Homo sapiens: one gene and its partners. The protein of the gene in region 6 purifies or fractionates together with the protein of the main gene of each other region. This does not show direct contact. Each region holds a gene or a part of one and is shown on either strand. Other genes may lie near its edges.

Region 1 (3,500 bases), on a different chromosome or scaffold from region 6:
TGAAAGGTTTAAAAACCTTTAAAAAAGTGAGCTATGATTTCATACACTTTGAACGTGTAGTAGAGATTGTTTTACTTTTTAAAAATTACAACAATTGGCCGGGTGCAGTGGCTCACGCCTGTAATCCCAGCACTTCGGGAGGCCAAGGGAGGTGGATTGCCTGAGATCAGGAGTTCGAGACCAGTCTGGACAACATGGTGAAACCCCGTCTCTACTAAAAATACGAAAAAATTAGCTGGACGTGGTGGCATGCGCCTGTAATCCCAGCTACTTGGGAGGTTGAGGCAGGGGAATTGCTTGAACCAGGGAGGTGGAGGTTGCAGTGAGCCGAGATCGCGCCACTGCACTCCAGCCTGGGTGACAGAGCAAGACTACGTCTCAAAAAAAAAAAAAATTACACGACAATTAAATTTCCATCTATCGTAAGTAGGAAGGTGTTTCCCATGTAGTATATATTTAGAACCATTTTTATTTTAAAAATGAAAATATGTAGGACATAGAATCACATAGGACATAGAATCATAGAATCAGTGCATATCCAATCAAAGTTTTCTGGATTTTTTCCCCTCTACTTTCCCCAAAGTACTTTTTAGTCATATAAAATATTCAGACCTTCTCACTTGGATTGTTAGGAATACTGTTTGTAGCCTACTGTTAGAAAAAAAGAACAAATGTAGATCTGATATTAAGTGCAAATCATTTTTATAATGAGCCTTTATATCGTATATCTTAGGCAAATACAGACCATTTCCTTAGGTCTCTAAAGTTGAAAGCTGAACTGTGATTGTTTACAAAGAGAATGTATAGCAGATGCAAAGGGAGAAGTGAGGAAATATCAACTGTAGTTTTTCCATAGCAATGAATAATTGCTCCAGAATGGGAGGAGAACCCTTTCCTCTAGTACTGAGATCATTATGTGAAAGGATGGGACACTTTACCCATAAAGTCATGATCTGAGTATGTTTTTCTGTCCTTCTGTGTGCAATTATTCAACAAGTGCCTCTAGCTCAGTAAGTGGTGGTGAAGAACAGTTGTTCTAATTGTTTAATAATGAAGGCCGGGCATGGTGATTCACGCCTGTAATCTCAGCACTTTGGGAGACTGAGGCGGGTGGATCACAAGTCAGGAGTTCGAGACCAGCCTGACCAATATGGTGAAACCTCATCTCTACTGAAAATACAAAAATTAGCTGGGCATGGTGGCGGGCACCTGTAGTCCCAGCTACTTGGGAGGCTGAGGCAGAAGAATCGTTTGAACCTGGGAGGCGGAGGTTGCAGTGAGCTGAGATTGTGCCACTGCACTCCAGCCTGGGCAACAGAGCAAGACTCCATCTCAAAAATAAAGAGAGAGAGAAAGAGAGAAAATCAAAGCTTGACTAAAGCTTTAGTCCCGTATCATCCTTTATAAAGAACACTGAAGTTTAGGGGCAGAAAAGCTGTATATTCAGTCTTAGAATATCTTGCCATTTCCAGGGAATGACCTTTCTAATGATTTATAATCAAACCTTTATTGCTTCAGTCCTGAGAGAGTCTTAAGTCTCAACACTTTAGAGTTCCACGTTACAGGTTTTATAGTTTTGACTCTTGTTCAAGTCGTTATGACAGTTGATATTTCTTGTTGCTGGTAGTTTTGTTTTAAATTTATTTTTCGGCTTCTCATTCTAAGCTGAGACGAACATGGTTTGGTATGACTGGATGAGGCCCTCACATGCACAGCTTCACTCTGACTATATGCAGCCCCTGACTGAGGCCAAAGCCAAGAGCAAGAACAAGGTTCGGGGTGTTCAGCAGCTGATACAGCGCCTCCGGCTGATCAAGTCTCCTGCAGAAATTGAACGAATGCAGATTGCTGGGAAGCTGACATCACAGGTATGATTCCTATTGAAAAGTTTTTTCCAGCCGGGCGCGGTGGCTCACGCCTGTAATCCAAGCACTTTGGGAGGCCGAGGCAGGTGGATCATGAGGTCAGGAGATCGAGACCATCCTGGCTAACATGGTGAAACCCCGTCTCTACTAAAAAAACATAAAAAATTAGCCGGGCATGGTGGCGGGCTCCTGTAGTCCCAGCTACTCGGTAGGCTGAGGCAGGAGAATGGTGTGAACCCGGGAGGCAGAGCTTGCAGTGAGCCGAGATCGGGCCACTGCACTCCAGCCTGGGCGACAGAGCGAGACTCCATCTCAAAAAAAAAAAAAAAAACAAGAAAAAAAGAAAAAGTTTTTTCCAGATTGGAAAAATCGTAAGCTCTTGAGGTCGTATACCCAATGCAGCAGTCTCCTCACCGCAGAATGGCATCTAGCTTCTGCTCCAGTGTGTAGTGAACATACCTAGAGACTTGCTTAATACCTTGCAAGACAAAGTAAATCTGCCTTCTGTTAAGATGGTTCTTTTACCCATCAATCTTAATTATTTCTCCTTAGAACGACAGAAATTAATACTGTTTCTTTTCCTTATAGTTACACTAATAGTGTCAGTTAAACAGTTTGGTTCTAAGAAAGACTCAGGACCCAAAGTGACAATGCTTACAGATCTGCAGTTTATTATAGGAAAAGGGTAAAAAATAACCATAATATGAAAGTAAGGATATATATCACAGCCAATGGCTGTCTCAAAGCAAGGAGTCTAGAGAAGCCAGGTGCAGGCTTCTCTGGTCCTCCCTAGGTGAGGGCCAGGCAGGATGTATCTTTCTCTTACAGATTAGGAATCACCAGTGTTGTCATACTCTGCTCAGGCTGCCATTACAAAATATCACAGTCTGCATGGCTTAAACAAGAGAAATGTATTGTCTCATAATTTTGCAGTCTGGAAGTCCGAGATCAAGGTGCCATCATGGTCCATTTCTGGTGAGGGCTCTCCCGGCTTACAGAAGGCGGCTTTCTTGCTGTGTCCTTACATGACAGTGAAAGAGGGCCTTTTTACAAGGCCATGGTCCTATCAAATTAGAGCCCCACCCTTAATTACCTAATTTAACCTTAACTACCTCCTAAAGACATAGAGATTAGAGCTTTAACACATTAATTCTGCGGGAAACACAATTCAGTCCATGGCACATGCAACAGACTACCTCAGAATCAGAGACTCCAAAATGGAATCTCAGCTAGGGATTTTTGTTTTTTTGGTCACATAATCATATTCCTGCTACGTAACAGTAAAGCCCCCCGAGAGTTTTCACAGAGACCAAGTGTAAACCATAAATCTCACTGGCAAACTGATAGAAACTATCCCAAAACTCCCTATTTCATTTATTCTCTCCAAGGTGTTGGCCATTGACTTAATTTAAAAAAATCTTTTTACTGTGGTGAAATGTGCATAACATAAAATATATCATTTTAACCGTTTTTAAGTATGCAAATCAATGACATTAAGTACATTCACATTGTTGTGCCCACTTTTTCCCGACTTTCTCCATCATTCCAAATAGAAACTGTACAGATAAATAATAACTTCCCATTCTCCCCTCCTCCAGCCCCCAGTAACCTCTACTTTCTCTGTGAATCTACCTA
Region 2 (3,500 bases), on a different chromosome or scaffold from region 6:
AATGAAGTCTCCTATGTCTACTTCTTTCTACACAGACACAGCAACAATCTGATTTCTCTATCTTTTCCCCACCTTTCCCCCTTTTCTATTCCACAAAACCGCCATCGTCATCATGGCCCGTTCTCAATGAGCTGTTGGGTACACCTCCCAGACGGGGTGGTGGCCGGGCAGAGGAGCTCCTCACTTCCCAGAAGGGGCGGCCGGGCAGAGGCGCCTCCGACCTCCCGGACGGGGCGGCGGCCGGGCGGAGGCGCCCCCCACCTCCCTCCTGGACGGGGCGGCTGGCTGGGCGGGGGCTGAACCCCCACCTCCCGGACGGGGCGGCTGGCCGGGCAGGGGCTGACCCCCCACCTCCCTCCCGGACGGGGCGGCTGCCGGGCGGGGGCTGACCCCCCACCTCCCTCCCGGATGGGGCGGCTGGCCGGGCGGGGGCTGACCTCCCACCTCCCTCCCGGACGGGGCGGCTGCCGGGCGGAGGGGCTCCTCACTTCTCAGACGGGGCTGCCGGGCAGAGACGCTCCTCACCTCCCAGACGGGGTCGCGGCTGGACAGAGGCGCTCCCCACATCTCAGACGATGGGTGGCCGGGCAGAGACGCTCCTCACTTCCCAGACGGGGTGGCGGCCGGGCAGAGGCTGCAATCTCGTCACTTTGGGAGGCCAAGGCAGGCGGCTGGGAGGTGGAGGTTGTAGCTAGCCGAGATCATGCCACTGCACTCCAGCCTGGGCAACATTGAGCCCTGAGTGAATGAGACTCCGTCTGCAATCCCGGCACCTCGGGAGGCCGAGGCTGGCGGATCACTCACGGTTAGGAGCTGGAGACCAGCCCGGCCAACACAGCGAAACCCCGTCTCCACCAAAAAAATACGAAAACCAGTCAGGCGTGGCGGCGTGCGCCTGCAATAGCAGGCACTCGGCAGGCTGAGGCAGGAGAATCAGGCAGGGAGGTTGCAGTGAGCCAAGATGGCAGCAGTACAGTCCAGCTTTGGCTCGGCATCAGAGGGAGACCGTGGAAAGAGAGGGCGAGGGAGACCGTGGGGAGAGGGAGAGGGAGACTGTGGGGAGAGGGAGAGGGAGAGGGAGAGCCTCCAACTCTCCTCTTGCTCAGGATCCGTTTGGGGACTTGCTCTGTGTGTTCATTCCTTTGGTATTCATTTCTTCATGTGGATCCAGATTTCCAACTCGTATCATTTTTCCTTTGGCTTGAAGGACATCCTTTTACATTTTTGTTGTGCATGTTTGATGGTGATAAATTCTTTTAGCTTTTGTATGTCTGTGTTCATTTTTGGTTTTTGAAAGATATTTTCACTGAGTAAAGAATTTAAGATTGATAATTTTTTTTTTTTTGTTACTGTAAAGATGTTGCTTCAGTGTTTTCAAGCATGTACATTGTTTCTCACAAGAAGTCTGCTGTTACCCTTACCTTTGTTCCTCTGCGTATTAGGTCTTTTCTCTCTGGCTGCTTATGAGAGTCCTCTCTCACTGGCATAAGCAATGTGATTGTGATTTGCTTTGGTGTAGTTTCTTCAGCTTTCTTATGTTTGGGATTTATTGAGCTTCTTGAAGCTGTAGGTTGTTAGTTTTCATAAAATTTGGGAAATTTTGGCCTTTATATCTTCAAAAAGTTTTCCATTCTTCCTCTCTCTCTCCTTTCCTCTGGATTCCTATTACATGTACATTAGACTGCTTAAACTTATCTCACAGCTTGCTGGTGTTACAGTCTTTCATTTAAAAATCTTTTTTTCCTCACTGTGTTTCATTGTGGGTAGTTTCTATTGCTATGTCTTCAAAGTCACTACTCTTTTCTTCTGAAATATCTAATCTGTTAATCCCATACAGTATGTTTTTAAACTAGACATTGTAGTTTTCATCTCTGAAAGTTTGATTTGGATCTTTTTTATACTTTGCTTGCTCTGCTTAATATGTTGGGATGCAGTTTAATAAATGTTTTGTTTCTAATTATTTCATCTCTTCAGATAATAAGCTGGGGCAGATCTGGGGTGCACATTTTGTTTTTCATTTCTAGGGGATCACTGTCTTTTATTGCCTAATATCAAATGCTTCAAATTGTTGATCCATATATTTTTTCAGAGTTTTAGTTGTGTCAGATGGGTGGTAAATCTAATCCCTGTTCCTCTATCTTAATTGGAAGTGAAAGTTCTACTTACTCATTTATATTACTTCATTGTCTACCCCATTCAAGTAATCCACATAGAAAAACCTGCATTTATACACACATGCTTCAGTACTTCTGAGATTCATGAGGATAAGGATTGCATATGTTTGTGCTCATGATTATATCTTGAGCATATAATGGGTTTTCAATACATTTTGTTGATTAAATGAATATATACATGTATATGCGGTTATACAAGTGTTTGTATACACACATGCCTGATATATTAGGGTGATGCTTATAAGTAACCCCCAAATTTTCGTGACTTTACCTAATAGAAGTTCATTTTTATTCATTTAACACTCTGAAGCAGATGTTCATAGTTGGTAGGCAGTTCTCTGTGAAATAATTCAGAGATCTGTTTCTCTTCTGTTTGGGGCCTTTGTAATTTCTTAGGGTTTTATTGTTATTTGTATCTAACCAATGAGACAAAAGGGAAAGACAGCTTAGAGAAGGTACAGCTTCTTCTAAAAAACCTTGGCTTAGATATGATACACATCACTTTTGCTCACATTCTATTGGTGTGAACCTTTCATGCCAATACCTAGATGTATGGTGGGCTGGGTAATGTAATCCCTGGATGGACAACCACTTCCCAGCAACAAATCCATACTGTGTGTGTAGGGGGACCAATCATGTGGTCACTTATTTTCAGGTGCAGGGATGCCAGAGATTATGATGTAGTCATTTAGCTGTTTGGCCTTCCATAGGATATTTCTGAAGAGCAGCTTTTAGTGGAATTCTCAGGAGGAAATTGGGCTTTAGTGCATTCTTATTAAGTATAGATCCTTGCACTCTACTCCAGATCTGCTGAAATCAAATTATTGTGTTGAGGTTTGGGAATATGCATTTTCATCAAACTTGTTGATTCTTACATTCACTAAAAGGTGAAATCTGCTGTAAGAGGTTATTTTAAACTTTTATTTTTCTTAAAAGAAAATGAGCTGGGCGAAGTGGCTCACGCCTGTAGTCCCAGCACTTTGGGAGGCCGAGGCGGGCAGATCACCAGGTTAGGAGATCGAGACCATCCTGGCTAACACGGTGAAACCGCTTCTCTACTAAAAATACAAAAAATTAGCCAGGTGTGGTGGCAGACGCCTGTAGTCCCAGCTGCTTGGGAGGCTGAGGCAGGAGACTGGCGTGAACCCAGGAGGTGGAGCTTGCAGTGAGCTGAGATTGCGCCACTGCACTCCAGCCTAGGCAACAGAGGGAGACTCCGTCTCAAAAAAAAAAAAAAAAAAAAAAAGAAAAAAGAGAAAAAGAGAAAAAGAAAAAGAAAATGAAATGACTTAGAAAATAAAGCCCAGTAGGATAGCTTGCAAAGAG
Region 3 (3,500 bases), on a different chromosome or scaffold from region 6:
TGGGACGAATCTTATTCACAGCAGGCTCTTCCTTCTTCCTGCCCACCCCACGCTTCCCAGTCTAGCACCTTAGACCAAAAGAGATCGGAAAATTGAGTTACCTGTATAATCTGGGCATAATTTTTTTATCGTTGTCCCTTTAACCCAGAACTTTATGCATTCTTTACTTTAGCTTTAGGAGAGTGGTGAATGAGATTTGTGAAGGGGACATTTTCTAGGGAATCGGTAAATTCGGGCCTTTGGAAAAAGTGTATCAACATCAGTCACATTGCCTAATTTCATGCTTACCTTGTGTGTAAGTTGCATAATCGCTGGCTTTGTGGACATGGGAAGGAAGGAGACTGGCTGTGGGTGGGGATGGAAGCCTGGGGACCTCACTGTAGACCCTTCCTTGTCCCCTCGTCAGGTTTGTATGTTCAGAGGGAAAGCAGTGCAGAACATATTTAAATAACCCTATTTTCCTTTATTTTTTTCTAGGTGTTGTTAGAGATACAAAAGGAATTATTAGACTACAAAGGAGTTGGCATTAGTGTTCTTGGTAAGATTTACTTTTGAATTCTGTGAATGTCCATGTTTCAAAGGAAGCTTTTTTTTTTTTTTTTTTTTTTAGAGGCAGGGTCCTGCTCTGTCACCCAGGCTGGAGTACAGTGGCGTGATCATAGTTCACTGCAGCCTCCAACTCCTGGGCTCAAGTGACCCTCCTGCCTCAGCATCCTGAGTAGCTAGGACTATAGGTACACATCACCACACCTGGCTAATTTTTTTTAAATGTTTAAAACATTTTTTAAAGATCCCATGAGATGGGATCTCACTTTGTTGCCCAGGCTGATCTGAAACTCGTGGCCTGAAGCCATCCTCCCACATTGGCCTCCCAAAGTTTTGGGATTACAGGCTTGAGCCACTGAGCCCTGGCCCAAAGGGAACTAATTTAAATGCATCAAATATAGAATTACAGGGCCTATAGGGTCTTCCTATAGGCCTTTATAGATACATTTTTAAACTTTAATAGCTTGGGTTGCATGTCTGATAGAAACCATTTTGAAAATAGCATAAATGCTGGTGAGAGGTTCTGACATCTCAGCTTACCCTGTCATAATTGGTTTTTGCTAATCATAGGATTTAGGATCAGAAGATACTGTATATTTGCATAACAGTGCCTCCAAACATTTATAATATTGCTTTACATTCAATTTACAGTTTTTATTATACTTAAATACAACCTCATTAAAGTTTAAAAGTACATAAGCCTTTTATGAAGACCTCGCACATTGATAATCTTATTAAGTTTCCCCTATATTTTTTGGGAAGAGGACCTCTGCATTCTAAAACTTATTTTCTTTTATTTTTGGCGGTTCTGAAGACTGCATGGTATTAAGAGACCATAGGGTTAACTATATTGCTTATTTCTGTTAAATTTTGCTCCTGTTGGTTTGGGACATATACTTAGATTTCTGTGAAGTGAGATCACAGCATGGAATTTTGTGCTCCAGACCTAAAGGGCAACTGTTGCACATGGATTCCTGTTTGTGAGAAAGAGATGGTAAGAAGAATCACAGAGAGCATCACGGAGTGATGAATTAATAAATAACTTGCTCAGTGAATGTACCACTTGAAAAATCCTTCTGCCATGACTATAAAGCTAAAATGTTTGCAATTTGAAAATCAGTTTGTATGGTCCCCTAAACTAAGTGAGCCTTGGCCCACAATTTGAATGCAGAATAACTGAAATTTCCCTGTATTGTTGTTTACTTGCAAATTTCGTAGGTATTTCTGTTCATTTGGTTTTGAGCTGGAATATTTGTTATTGTTGTTTATCTTTCCTTTCACAGAAATGAGTCACAGGTCATCAGATTTTGCCAAGATTATTAACAATACAGAGAATCTTGTGCGGGAATTGCTGTAAGTTTTAAAAAGACCAAATCATGTTACTTTTGTTAGATACTTCCTAAATCTGGATGTCTTCCAGTATTTTCTACACTCTATTGTTTGTTCAGAATATTTCATAATTTAAAATAATCCTTGTAAGATTCTCTCCAATTCACTATTAGTACCTAACGCTTTTTATTTGTTCCCCATCCCGTGTTTATATGTTTTTGTTTTTATTTTATGTGATATTTCCAAAGATTTGAAATCATTGTATCTAGGAATGATTTTTCAGCACTGTGGCAGTTAAACTGGTGTGAAAGAGATGTAAATGACACAGAAATGGTCATCTTTGTCAGCATAATTGACTATAAACTAGTTCAGGTGTTCTCGAAGTTTGAGTCTCATACGATCTGTCAGAGTCACCTGGTTAGGGGGAATATTAAAAAATTCAAGTGGGGCCGGGCAAGGTGGCTCATGCCTGTAATCCCAGCACTTTGGGAGGCCGAGGCGGGTGGATCGTGAGATCAGGAGATCAAGACCATGCTGGCTACCACGGTGAAACCCCATCTACTAAAAATACAAAAAAAGAAAAAATTAGCTGGGCATGGTGGCGCATACCTGTATTCCCAGCTATTCGGGAGGCTGAGGCAGGAGAATCGCTTGAACCAGGGAGGCGGAGTTTGCAGTGAGCCGAGACCGTGCCACTGCATTCCAGCTTAGGTGACAAAGCGAGACTCCGTCTCAAAAAAAAAAAAAAAAAAAAAAAAAAAATCAAGTGGTGGGCACCACTTAGTCCTGCTGAATCAGAATCTCTGGAGAGACTTTATTTTTAACAGGCTCTTTGGGTAATTGTAAGAGTTCTGAACTGTAGGAACTACTGCTTAGACGAAATCTCCTGGGTTATCTGTACTGCCTTTCCTATCCAGAGAATCCCTTATTCTTAAATAGATTGCTATTTAAAGGAGAGATTTTTATATATTATATAAACATGTTCACATAAACCTACGAATATAGCAAGTTTGAAAGCATACCATTTTTTTTCCTGCTCACAGAAATAATGCACATTTATGGTAGGAAAAACACTGTAGCTCACAACTAAACTGAAATTAACTTTAACCCCACTAATCAGGGATAATCACTAATATGTTAGGACCCATTCTTGCATTATTACATTAACAAAATTGGAATTATACTGATTATTTCAAGTTTTCTTTTTCAAATTGCTTGATAAAATGATTCAGATGGGGCAGGCTTGGTGATATTTCTGTGAGGAGCTGTAGACGCTAATTGCAATGTGAATGTTCAGAGCTGGTAGCCATCTGCTTGGCTTCTCTCGTCCATTGGCCTGCTGAGTATCATGTCACATTCATAGGACAATCCTGTCCTTCATGGAGTGGGTATTTGGAACATCAGCCTGGGAGAGATGACATTTGACCACATGGCTATGAACTTCCTCTGACTGGGGTCCCAGTTCAATTTAAGGGCCTATCTTTTCTTCTCCTAACCTGGTTCCCACCTTGTATACCTGTACCTAGACCTCGGCCTGGTTTCTTTCCATCTAATTCTTGGCCTTGTTAACTGCCCTGCATCTGAATAATGTGAACCTGGAACTCTGTCTTGGGTTATCAGTCTTC
Region 4 (3,500 bases), on a different chromosome or scaffold from region 6:
CCCAGCCAAGTATTGTTATTATTTTTTTTTTCTGAAATGGAGTCTCGCTCTGTTGCCTAGGCTGGAGTGCAGTGGCACCATCTCGGCTCACTGCAACCTCCACCTCCCAGGTTCAAGCAATTCTTCCTCAGCCTCCCAAGTAGCTGGGATTACAGGCGCCCGCCACCAAGCCTGGCTAAGTTTTTGTATTTTTAGTAGAGACAGGGTTTCACCATGTTGGCCAGGCTGGTCTCGAACTCCTAACCTCAGGTGACCCACCTGCCTCGGCCTCCCAAAGTGCTGGGATTACAAACCTGAAGCCTCAGCCACCACGCCCGGCCCTAAGTAATCATTTCTAGTGCCCCTATATATGCTTACTACTTTGAATTAAAATGTATATAGTTTCTTTCTTTTTTGTTGTATATTTTTAAAAAATAAATTGACATGGGTTCTCGGCATGTTGACCAGGCTGGTCTTGAACTCCTGGTCTCAAGCGATCCTCCCATCTCAGCCTCACAAAATGCTAGGATTACAGGTGGGGGGCCACCATGCTCGGCCCAGTTTCTTTCTTCTTTGGACTGTAAGTACCTTAAGGGCAAGTAACTTGTTTCTTTAGTATCCACAGTACCGGCCACTCTTGAATTAACTTGCACTAACACTTGCCTTCTACCACCCCCTTTTATCCATTACTGCTTGTGTCTTGTCACTCCTCTGTTTAAGAGCTCTAAGAGGCTCCCCTGTTTCTACCAGATAAAATTTTAAATTTGTAATGTGATATAAAAGATTCTCGTCGACCATTTCCTTCCTTTCTTTCCAGACTCATGTCTTACCATTCCCTTACATGCACAGAATTTACATACTGTGGAACTCTGGTACTTTCAGCATTAGAAACACTGGGTAACTCTGTTTCTTATCTTAGTGTCATAGCATATGCCATTACTTGTACCTGGAATGCATATTCTTCCTCTTTTTCCCTCCTCGCAAAGAAGCCATTTTCCTTTTTGAGACTTAATTTAAACATCCTCTGCCCTGGGAAACTAGTTTCTCAAGCCCCTTGTCTGACTTTCACACATAGAGTTGCAGTATAGTTATTTATCTTCACTGTTACATTGTGAAAATCTCTAGGACTGAATGTCTTTTACCTCTGGTTTCCCCATATCCTAATTTACATCGTGGTACATAGTAGATATTCAATACATGTTTGCATGAATGAATACATGTGAAATTGAATTTAATGAACTTGTTTAAAGCTATCTAACATTTTCACTTTTTATTAAATATATGATTTGTTGATATACCTATGCCTAATTTGAATTATATATTAAGTGTTTTTAGGCCAGGCACTGTGGCTCATACCTGTAGTCCCAGCACTTTGGGAGGCTGAGGCAGAGGATTGCCTGAGCCCAGGAGGTTGAGACCAGCCTAGGCAACACAGTGAGATGCCATGTCTACAAAAAATTTAAAATTAGCTGGGCATGGTGATGTGTGCTTGCAGTCTCAGCTATTATACACGGGAGGCTGAGGCGGGAGGATTTCCTGAGTCCAGGAAGCCAAGACTGCATTGAGCCTCTGCATTCCAGCCTGGGCAAGAGAGTGAGACCCTGTCTCTTACAAACAAAACAGAAAAGTTTTTACATTTGAGTGGTTTCTTTGATTTTGTAAGAACATTTTAATTTTAGATATTTAAAAATATTTAAAATACAGCTTAAAAAATAAAACAATCCTGTTTCCAAACAGTCAAAATTTAATCACTAACATTTAATTTCATTTCTCTTGTTTTTATATATTCAAGGCTTATTGTGTAACAGAACCTGGAGCAGGCTCTGATGTAGCTGGTATAAAGACCAAAGCAGAAAAGAAAGGAGATGAGTATATTATTAATGGTCAGAAGATGTGGATAACCAACGGAGGAAAAGCTAATTGGTATGTTGTTCAAAACATCTTTGTATATTTTTTCTTAATTGTTTTATCTTCAAATCTCTCTTTCTTTCTGTATATTTTTAAACCACTACAGTTAAGGTATGTTTGTGGAACTGGAAGGCCTAAAGGAGATTATAAACAGTTCAGTGATTTTCAAAAACTAATTTTAAGCCCCTGCACTGTTTTTTCAAATTAACTCTCAGAAGTTTAATGTGTAAAATAAAATACAAATGCGTGCTCTGTTTGAATCTGATTAGGAAGGCTAGCACTCTGTCTACTTGGCTTATTATCTCCACTCCTCATCTCCTATACCAGCCGCTCCTTGGAATCCCTAAAACCCTAAGGAAAAAGGAGAACCTTTGGTATAGTGCCTGTCTCCAGATGTCAGAAATAAACAGAGTCAGTCTTAAAACAGGTTATCTATTAGAGAAGACAGAATTTGACTTTAATAAAATCTGAAATTTTCTAATATATGGTCAAAAAATATGAAGTTCAACAAAGGATCAAAAATAATTTGTATAAATATAAAATACTAAAAAAAAACACTCGATTATTTGTTGATAAAAGATGAGGAAAGTTCAATAACTGTTAAGTTCAATAAGAATCAATAGTATGAGCCTTTAAAAAGCCAATGTAATTTTAAGCCAAAGTAATAGAAGTACAGCATCAAATAGAGAAAAAATGGTGACAGTTCTGGGCAACACATTTTAAAACATGTATTGAAAAACTTGACTAAATCTAGAAGCATGTAAGTATCTTGCATTAGGAGGAGCCTACAAAACATGTTCTGAAAAGCAAAGCCTTGGTTATTTTGGAAGAATCTTGAAGTTTTTCAAATATTATTACACAGAAAGATGATCAGGCTTATATGTTTACTTCAGGATGCCAGCTTAGAATTAATGAGTGAAAGTTAGAAAAATGTAGAATTTAGCTTAACATAAGGACAGGCTTTCTATCAGCAGTGCTGTTAAGTTGTCATGGGAAATACTGTATTTACCCATCACTACAAGTATATAGAGAGTTTCTAGAATAACTTTTTATTGATTGGAATAATGTACTAAATGACCTGTCTCTCTTTGTAAAAAATTCAGATTCAATATATTTGTGTGCCATATACTACAGTTTTCTAGCAAATAAAACATCATTTTTTTTCAGAGTGAGCCTACTAAAAAGTTACTTAGATTAAACATATCAGTCAATTCCTTATGAGCATCCTAAATATATTCAGTATTATGGAGTGCTATATCTTTACCTTTAACCAATTCCTGGTAATATCAGCAACTAATAAAAAGTGAAGAAACTATTAAAATTTAACAAGTTGAGAGAAATCTAACAATGCAGTTTGAAGTTTTCGTAATTTTAAAAACGGATTAGCCAGGTGCAATCACTCACGTCTACAATCCCAGCAGTTTTGGAGGCTGAGGCAGGAGGATTGCTTGAGCCCAGGGGTTCAAGACCAGCTTGGGCAACATAACGAGACCCCATCTTTACAAAATTAAAACAAAAAGAAAGAACTGATTACAACTGTTCACTGTTCATATAGTAAGGCAAATTAGGTAATATATGAAACCAGATAACAATTTTTACGATTTTGTTACTAT
Region 5 (3,500 bases), on a different chromosome or scaffold from region 6:
AGGGTTTCACCATGTTGACTAGGCTGGTCGTGAACTCTGGGCTCAAGCAGTCCACCCACCTTGCCCTCCCAGAGTGCTGGGATTACAGGCATGAGCCACTGCGCCCAGCCTGACAATGGCATTTAAAAGATGTCATGGCTATGTAAAAAAATGTTTCCACTGTTGTACGTACACATCTGCACATGCAAGAAAATTTCTCAAATCTTTCTTCCTTTTCTTTTCTCTTCTCTTCTTTCTCTTCTTTTCTTTTCTTTTCTTTTTTTGAGACAGGGTCTCACTCTGTTGCCCAGGCTGGAGTGCAGTGGCGCGATCTCGGCTCACCACAACCTCTGCCTCCCGGGTTCAAGTGATTTTCCTGCCTCAGCCTCCCTAGTAGCTGGGACTACAGGCGCCCGCCACCGCACCCGGCTAATTTTTGTATTTTTAGTAGGACGAGGTTTCACCATGTTGGCCAGGCTTGGTCTTGAGCTCCTGACCTCAGGTGATCTGCCTGCCTCGGCCTCCCAAAGTGCTGGGATTACAGGTGTGAGCCACTGCATCTGGTCAAATTTCTCAAATATTTCTATTGTGATAAAATGTATGTAACACAGGCTGGGCGCGGTGGCTCACGCCTATAATCCCAGCACTTTGGGAGACCGAGGTAGGTGGATCACGAGGTCAGGAGATCAAGACCATCCTGGCCAACATGGTGAAACCCCGTCTCTACTAAAAATACAACTAATTAGCTGGTCATGGTGGCGTGTTCCTGTAATCCCAGCTACTCAGGAGGCTGAGGCAGGAGAATTGAACCAGGGAGGCAGAGGTTGCAGTGAGCTGAGATCACGCCACTGCACTCCACCCTGGCGACAGAGCAAGACTCTGTCTCAAAAAAAAAAAAAAAAAAAAAAGTAACAAAGCGTACCATTTTAACCAGTTTTTAAAATTAAAAAAAAATTTTTTTTTTTTTAGAGATGGGGGGGGTCTCACTTTGTCACGGAGGCTGGAGTGCAGTGGTGCAATCCTAGCTCATTGCAGCCTCGAACTCCTGGAGTCCAGTGATCCTCCTGCTTAGTGTCCTGAGTAGCTGGGATTACAAGGCATGTGCTATTGTGCCTGGCTAATTTTTTTTTTTTTAATTTTTTGTAGAGCTGGGGTCTCACTATGCTGCCCCGGGCTGGTCTCGAACTCCTGGCCTCAAGCAATCCTCCTGCCTTGGCCTCCCAAAGTGCTGGGATTACAGGCGTGAGCTACTGCGCCTGGCCCATTTTAACCATTTTTAAGTGTACAGGTCAGTGGCATTAAGTGCATTCACATTGCTGTGTAGCCATCACCACCGTCTGTCTCCAGAACTCTTTGCTCATCCCAACTGAAACTCTCTACCCATTTAACAATCACTCCCATCCCCACAGTCCCTGGTAACCACCATTCTACCTCATCTCTGTAAATTTGACTATTCTAGGCATCTCACATAAATGATAAATGGAGGCATACAATATTTGTCTTCTTTGACTTATTTTACTGAGCATATGTTGAACGTTCCTCCATACTGTAGTATATGTCAGTACTGCATTCCTTTTTGTTGCTGAGTAATATTCGTGTGTGTGTGTGTGTGTGTGTGTGTGTGTCTAGACCACATTCCGTGTATTCATCTATTCGTAATGGACACTTGGGTTGTTTCCATCTGTTGCCATTGTGAATAGTGCTGCAGTGAACATTGGTATACAAGTATCTGTTTGAATCCTACTTTCAGTTCTTTTGGGTATATACCCAGGAAGTAGAATCTCTGGATCATACGGTCATTCTATTTTTACTTTTTTGAGGACTACCAAACGGTTTTCTGTAGCAACTGCACCATTTTATATTCCCACCAGCAATGCACAAGGATTCCAATTTCTCCACATCCTTGCCAACATTTGTTATTATTTATTTATTTATTGAGATGAAGTCTCGCCCTGTCGCCAGGCTGGAGTGCAGTGGCGCGATCTCGGCTCGCTGGAACCTCTGCCTCCCGGGTTCAAGTGATTTTCCTGCCTCAGCCTCCCGAATAGCTGGGACTACAGGTGCCTGCCACCATGCCCAGTTAATTTTTTTAATATTTTTAGTAGAGACAGGGTTTCACCGTGTTAGCCAGGACGGTCTCCATCTCTTGACCTCGTGATCTGCCCGCCTTGGCCTCCCAAAGTGCTGGGACTACAGGCATGAGCCACCGCGCCCGGCCTAGGGTTTTTTAATATATTCTAGATATTAATCCCTTATCAGATATGTGATTTGCAAATATTTTCTCCTATTCTGTGGGTTGTCTTTTCACCCTCTTGATCATGCTCTTTGATGTACAAAAATTTTAGTTTTAGTGAAGTACAATTTATCTTTTTTTTTTTTTTGTCTGTGCTTTTGGTGCTATATCCAAGAAATCTTTACTAAATCCAGTGTCATGAACATTTTTTCCCTAGATTTTCTTCTAAGAGTTTTAAAGGGTTTTTTTGTTGGTTTGTTTATTGTTTTTTGAGGCAGGGTCTCATTTTATTGCCTAGGCCGGAGTGCAGTGGCGTGAACACGGCTCACTGCAGCCTTGACCTCTCCAGCTCAAGTGATCCTCCTGCCTCAGCCCCACAAGTAGCTGGGACTACAGGCATGCGCAGTCAGGCCCAGCTAATTTTTGTATTTTTTTGTAGAGACAGGTTTTCACCGTGTTGCCTGGGCTAGTCTTGAACTTCTGCGCTCTGGTGATCCACCTGCCTCAGCCTCCCAAAGTGTTTCAGATTACAGGTGTGAGCCACTGCAACCGGCCAGGTTTGAGCTCTTAAGTTTAGATCTCTGATCTTTATATACTTATTATTATTTTTTTTTATAGAGATGGAGTCTTGCTGTGTTGCCCAGGCTGGTCTTGAACTCCTTGGCTCAAGCAAACCTCCCATGATGGCCTCCCAAGGTGCTGGGACTACAGGTATGAGCTACTGCACCTGGCCTCTTTACTTTTCAAATTAAACTTTTTATTTTGACATAATTATAAATTCACATGCCGTTGCAGGAAATAATACAGAGATCCTAGGTGCCCTTGGGTTTTGTTTTTTTATTTAGCATTTAGTCCATTTACATTTAATGAAATATGATACATTTGGGTTTAATCTGCTATCTTACTCTATATATTCAAATTGCCTATTCTCTGTTCATTTTTCTCTCTAGTCTTCTTTTAGGTTAATTTTTATTATCCTATTTTTCCTCTTCTATTAGCTTGAAAGTTATATGCTCTTTTCTCAGTTTTAAGTGGTCACCCTAGAATTTAAAGCAGGCATTCATGTTGTACCAAAGACTAATGATAATGTGTACTTTACCTTCTTCCTGGACAGTGCAAGGATCCTAACACACTTTAACTCCATTTATTGTTGTCATTTGTTTTAATTATTTCTGTTTTAAATCACACAACCCATTGTTTTGTGCAGTCAGATATTTAGATTTTCACCCTTATAGTCACTGTATTTGTTGTTCTTCGTTCCTTCTGGAATCTGACTTTACATCTGGAT
Region 6 (3,500 bases):
ACTTTTTTTTTTTTTTTTTTTTTTTGAGACTGAGTTCCGCTCTTGTTGTCCAGGCTGTAGTGCAATGGCACGATCTCGGCTCACTGCAACATCCGCCTCCTGGGTTCAAGCGAGTCTCCTGCCTCAGCCTCCAGAGTATCTGGGATTATAGGCATATGCCACCACATCCAGCTAGTTTCTGTATTTTTAGTAGAGACGGGATTTTACCATGTTGGCCAGGCTGGTCTCAAACTCCTGGCCTCAGGTGATTCGCCCACCTCAGCCTCCCAAAGTACTGTGATTACAGGCATGAGCCACAGCGCCAGGCCTTACCTTGTTTTTAAATGACAATCTGAGGTCCAGTTGGACCTCCGGTGATAACTGGCAGGTACCATAGTTTTGTGTGTGTGCGTGTGTGTGTGTGTTTCTTAATCAGCGTCTCAGTTTCAATTCTGACTTGGCTTAATCATATTTGAACTTAAAGGTTAATTTTGGTTAACTTAAAAATCTGATGCTTTCAAGAGACAGCTTTGTTGGACCATTTAAAGATCCAGTTGTTTTTTGCCACCCCCCTTTGTTTTATATCTTGTTACTAAAGATGCCAAACTTTAATGTAGCTCCTTTTTATGTATTTTTTAGAATTATGTTTTCTGATTTTTTTGATAATGTTCCATGCTCAAAAAATAAAACACTTGTATAACAGTTGGTTTTTATTATTATGCTCATGAATGAGGGCTTGATGTGGGCTGATCACACTGACTAGTAGTTGGGAAGGAATAAACCTGTATCCGAGTACGAAGTGGGGAACAGGGTTTTACAGGACAAAGGAATAAAAGGCTTGAGTCTCCAAAAAGAACTTAAAGTTATTCTTGGTAGGGTACAGAGTAGAAAGGGTTGTTAAGAGGGTAGAAGGAATCAGAATTGCCTGTAGCCTTCGCTTCTGTTTTGGACTAACTGATAAAAGATAGACTTACTTGCATAGGAATGTAAATTAGATAAGTGAGATAATTTCAGCTCTTTTTTAACTTACTAGCATTGCTTTTATGTGCTAAGTCATGCTTTGATTTAAATATTAAGAAAGTGTCCTTGCTTAAATCAATACTTGATTGAATCGATACAAAAATCTGTGATAAGATAAACCCAGGCGGCCAGATATGATATCCTAAGAACAATGATAGATTCAATGAGGTTATTAGATGTTGATCTTTCATTTATGAGGGCTTTAGCAAACACTGCAGAATATTCAGGTTTTGAGAGATTCATACTTACAAGCATTTAATTTGTTCTTCACTGTCACCCTACAAGGAGGTATAGCCTCTTGTTCTAGTGTGGATTTTTTTTCACAAGCAAACACATTCCTCCCTACTTGTACTTCTGCCTCAACTGAATCATTTTAAGAATTTAGGCCGGACACAGTGGTTCACATCTGTAATCACAGCACTTTGAGAGGCTGAGGCGGGCAGATCACCCGAGGTCAGGAGTTCAAGACCAGCCTGGCCAACATGGTGAAACCCCGTCTCTACTAAAAATACAAATTAGCTGGGGTGTGGTGGCACGCACCTGTAATCCCAGTTACTCCGGAAGCTGAGGTAGGAGAATCGCTTGAACCTGGGAGATGGAGGTTGCAGTGAGCTGATATTGCACCATTGCACTTCAGCCTGGGTGACAGAGTGATACTCTGTCTCAAAAAAAAAAAAAAAGAATTTAGATATTACTTATATTGTAGATGAATGTGATAGGGTCTTTTATTATTATACTTTAAGTTCTAGGGTACATGTGCACAATGTGCAGGTTTGTTACATATGTATACATGTGCCATGTTGGTGTGCTGCACCCATTAACTCGTTGTTTACATTAGGTAATGTGATAGGGCCATTTTTATAACAGGTTAATCAGACTTTGGTTTTCATTTTGGCACATTTAATGTTGAAATGGATTTAAGCAGGGGTAAAATTGGCTTCATCTTCCTTTATTATCATTATAAGGTCACTAGGACATAGTTACATTAAGTTCATTAGAACATAGTTATACCACTAGGACATACTTATACCAGTGTATTTTTTACCCCTTAGCATCAAAATCTGTTACCCAAATTTTACTCTGTAAATAAGAGAAAATATTTTTACAAATCTTAAGAATTCTTTATTCACTTACATGTTGTCTGAATCAACTTCTAATTTGTGTTTTTAAAAATGGTAGTATGGCTGGGCACGGTGGCTCACGCTTGTAATCCCAGCACATTGGCAGGCCCAGGCTGGCAGATCACTTGAGGCCAGGAGTTTGAGACCAGCCTGGCCAACATGGTGAAACCCCGTCTCTACTAAAAATACAAAAATTAGCCGGGCGTGGTGGTGGGCGCCTGTAGTCCCAGCTACTTGGGAGGCTGAGGCAGGAGAATTGCTCGAACCCGGGAGGTGGAGGTTACAGTGAGCTGAGATCATGCCACTTCACTCCCGCCTGGACAACAGAGCGAGAATACGTCCCCCCGCTCCCCTGCCCCTCCACCCCCCAAAAAATGCTGGTAGTTCATAGAATTTAATTGGAAGAGATCTTAGATGATCTGATCCAGTCCCTTTATTTATGGCTAATTTCTCTGGTCTCAGTGTCCTAAAGTCACTCAACTAGTTTGTCGCAAAGCTAGAGATTAGAGCCTAAGTCAGCTACATACTTGTTACCTTTTACTAGTACATGCTGTCTCTCTTGGTCTAGAAAGCAGAATGGAAAGGCTTTCTGTAGGAAGTGTTGCCTTTGGGAATCAGAAATAAGGTCATTTCATTTCTAACTCATTTAGAAGTTGTCTTGAACAGTCAACTTCTAGTTTTGAACTATAAATTTATTGTAAAATTATTTCTTGGAGTGTGCTTTTGGTCTGGATTTTAAATCTATAATGTCTTCTTCTAGTTGGATTGGATGCTGCTGGCAAGACAACCATTCTGTATAAACTGAAGTTAGGGGAGATAGTCACCACCATTCCTACCATTGGTAAGAAAGTTTACAGATGACTTTATATCATGATATGTTGTAAAGTGAAATATATACAGTCTAGTTTTGAGATTGTCTTTTTGTTAAGCATGTTGATTATCTTAGAAGTACTTTTAAAACAGGCCGGGTGTGGTGGCTCATGCCTGTAATCCCAGCACTTTGGGAGGCCGAGGCGGGTGGATTGCTTGAGCCCAGGAGTTCAAGACCAGCCTGCATAACATAATGAGGCCTTGTCTCTGTTGATGTTTAGGCTTAAATATATTTTTTAAAAATAAAAAGAAGTACTTTAAAAACACTATTCTAAGAAAATTCCACAATAAAAGGTTTTATTTTCTTAATGACGCTGCACAGCGGTCATTTTTGTTTTTCTTTGTAGGTTTTAATGTGGAAACAGTAGAATATAAGAACATTTGTTTCACAGTATGGGATGTTGGTGGTCAAGATAGAATTAGGCCTCTCTGGAAGCATTACTTCCAGAATACCCAGGTAAGGGATACTGTATGTTTTTATAACTTTTCTTTGTGGGTTTCATGCTCTAA

What was found.
Region 1: the proteins of ARF4 (region 6) and XPNPEP3 purify together in Homo sapiens (co-immunoprecipitation; one large-scale study listed by IntAct). This does not show direct contact.
Region 2: the proteins of ARF4 (region 6) and RAB3IP purify together in Homo sapiens (pull-down; one study listed by IntAct). This does not show direct contact.
Region 3: the proteins of ARF4 (region 6) and PSAT1 fractionate together in Homo sapiens (co-fractionation; one large-scale study listed by BioGRID). This does not show direct contact.
Region 4: the proteins of ARF4 (region 6) and ACADM fractionate together in Homo sapiens (co-fractionation; one large-scale study listed by BioGRID). This does not show direct contact.
Region 5: the proteins of ARF4 (region 6) and LMAN2 purify together in Homo sapiens (affinity purification with mass spectrometry; one large-scale study listed by BioGRID and IntAct). This does not show direct contact.

What each region holds. Positions count from the first base shown.
Region 1 is NC_000022.11:40,884,648-40,888,147, forward strand, and holds part of XPNPEP3 (xaa-Pro aminopeptidase 3), read left to right. Parts: intron 1-1,665; coding exon 1,666-1,868; intron 1,869-3,500. UniProt on the Homo sapiens protein: Catalyzes the removal of a penultimate prolyl residue from the N-termini of peptides, such as Leu-Pro-Ala. Also shows low activity towards peptides with Ala or Ser at the P1 position.
Region 2 is NC_000012.12:69,759,360-69,762,859, forward strand, and holds part of RAB3IP (rab-3A-interacting protein isoform alpha 1), read left to right. Parts: intron 1-3,500. UniProt on the Homo sapiens protein: Guanine nucleotide exchange factor (GEF) which may activate RAB8A and RAB8B. Promotes the exchange of GDP to GTP, converting inactive GDP-bound Rab proteins into their active GTP-bound form.
Region 3 is NC_000009.12:78,300,125-78,303,624, forward strand, and holds part of PSAT1 (phosphoserine aminotransferase), read left to right. Parts: intron 1-477; coding exon 478-538; intron 539-1,829; coding exon 1,830-1,899; intron 1,900-3,500. UniProt on the Homo sapiens protein: Involved in L-serine biosynthesis via the phosphorylated pathway, a three-step pathway converting the glycolytic intermediate 3-phospho-D-glycerate into L-serine.
Region 4 is NC_000001.11:75,738,209-75,741,708, forward strand, and holds part of ACADM (medium-chain specific acyl-CoA dehydrogenase, mitochondrial isoform a precursor), read left to right. Parts: intron 1-1,771; coding exon 1,772-1,902; intron 1,903-3,500. UniProt on the Homo sapiens protein: Medium-chain specific acyl-CoA dehydrogenase is one of the acyl-CoA dehydrogenases that catalyze the first step of mitochondrial fatty acid beta-oxidation, an aerobic process breaking down fatty acids into acetyl-CoA and allowing the production of energy from fats.
Region 5 is NC_000005.10:177,341,669-177,345,168, reverse strand, and holds part of LMAN2 (vesicular integral-membrane protein VIP36 precursor), read left to right. Parts: intron 1-3,500. UniProt on the Homo sapiens protein: Plays a role as an intracellular lectin in the early secretory pathway. Interacts with N-acetyl-D-galactosamine and high-mannose type glycans and may also bind to O-linked glycans.
Region 6 is NC_000003.12:57,583,845-57,587,344, reverse strand, and holds part of ARF4 (ADP-ribosylation factor 4), read left to right. Parts: intron 1-2,880; coding exon 2,881-2,961; intron 2,962-3,337; coding exon 3,338-3,447; intron 3,448-3,500.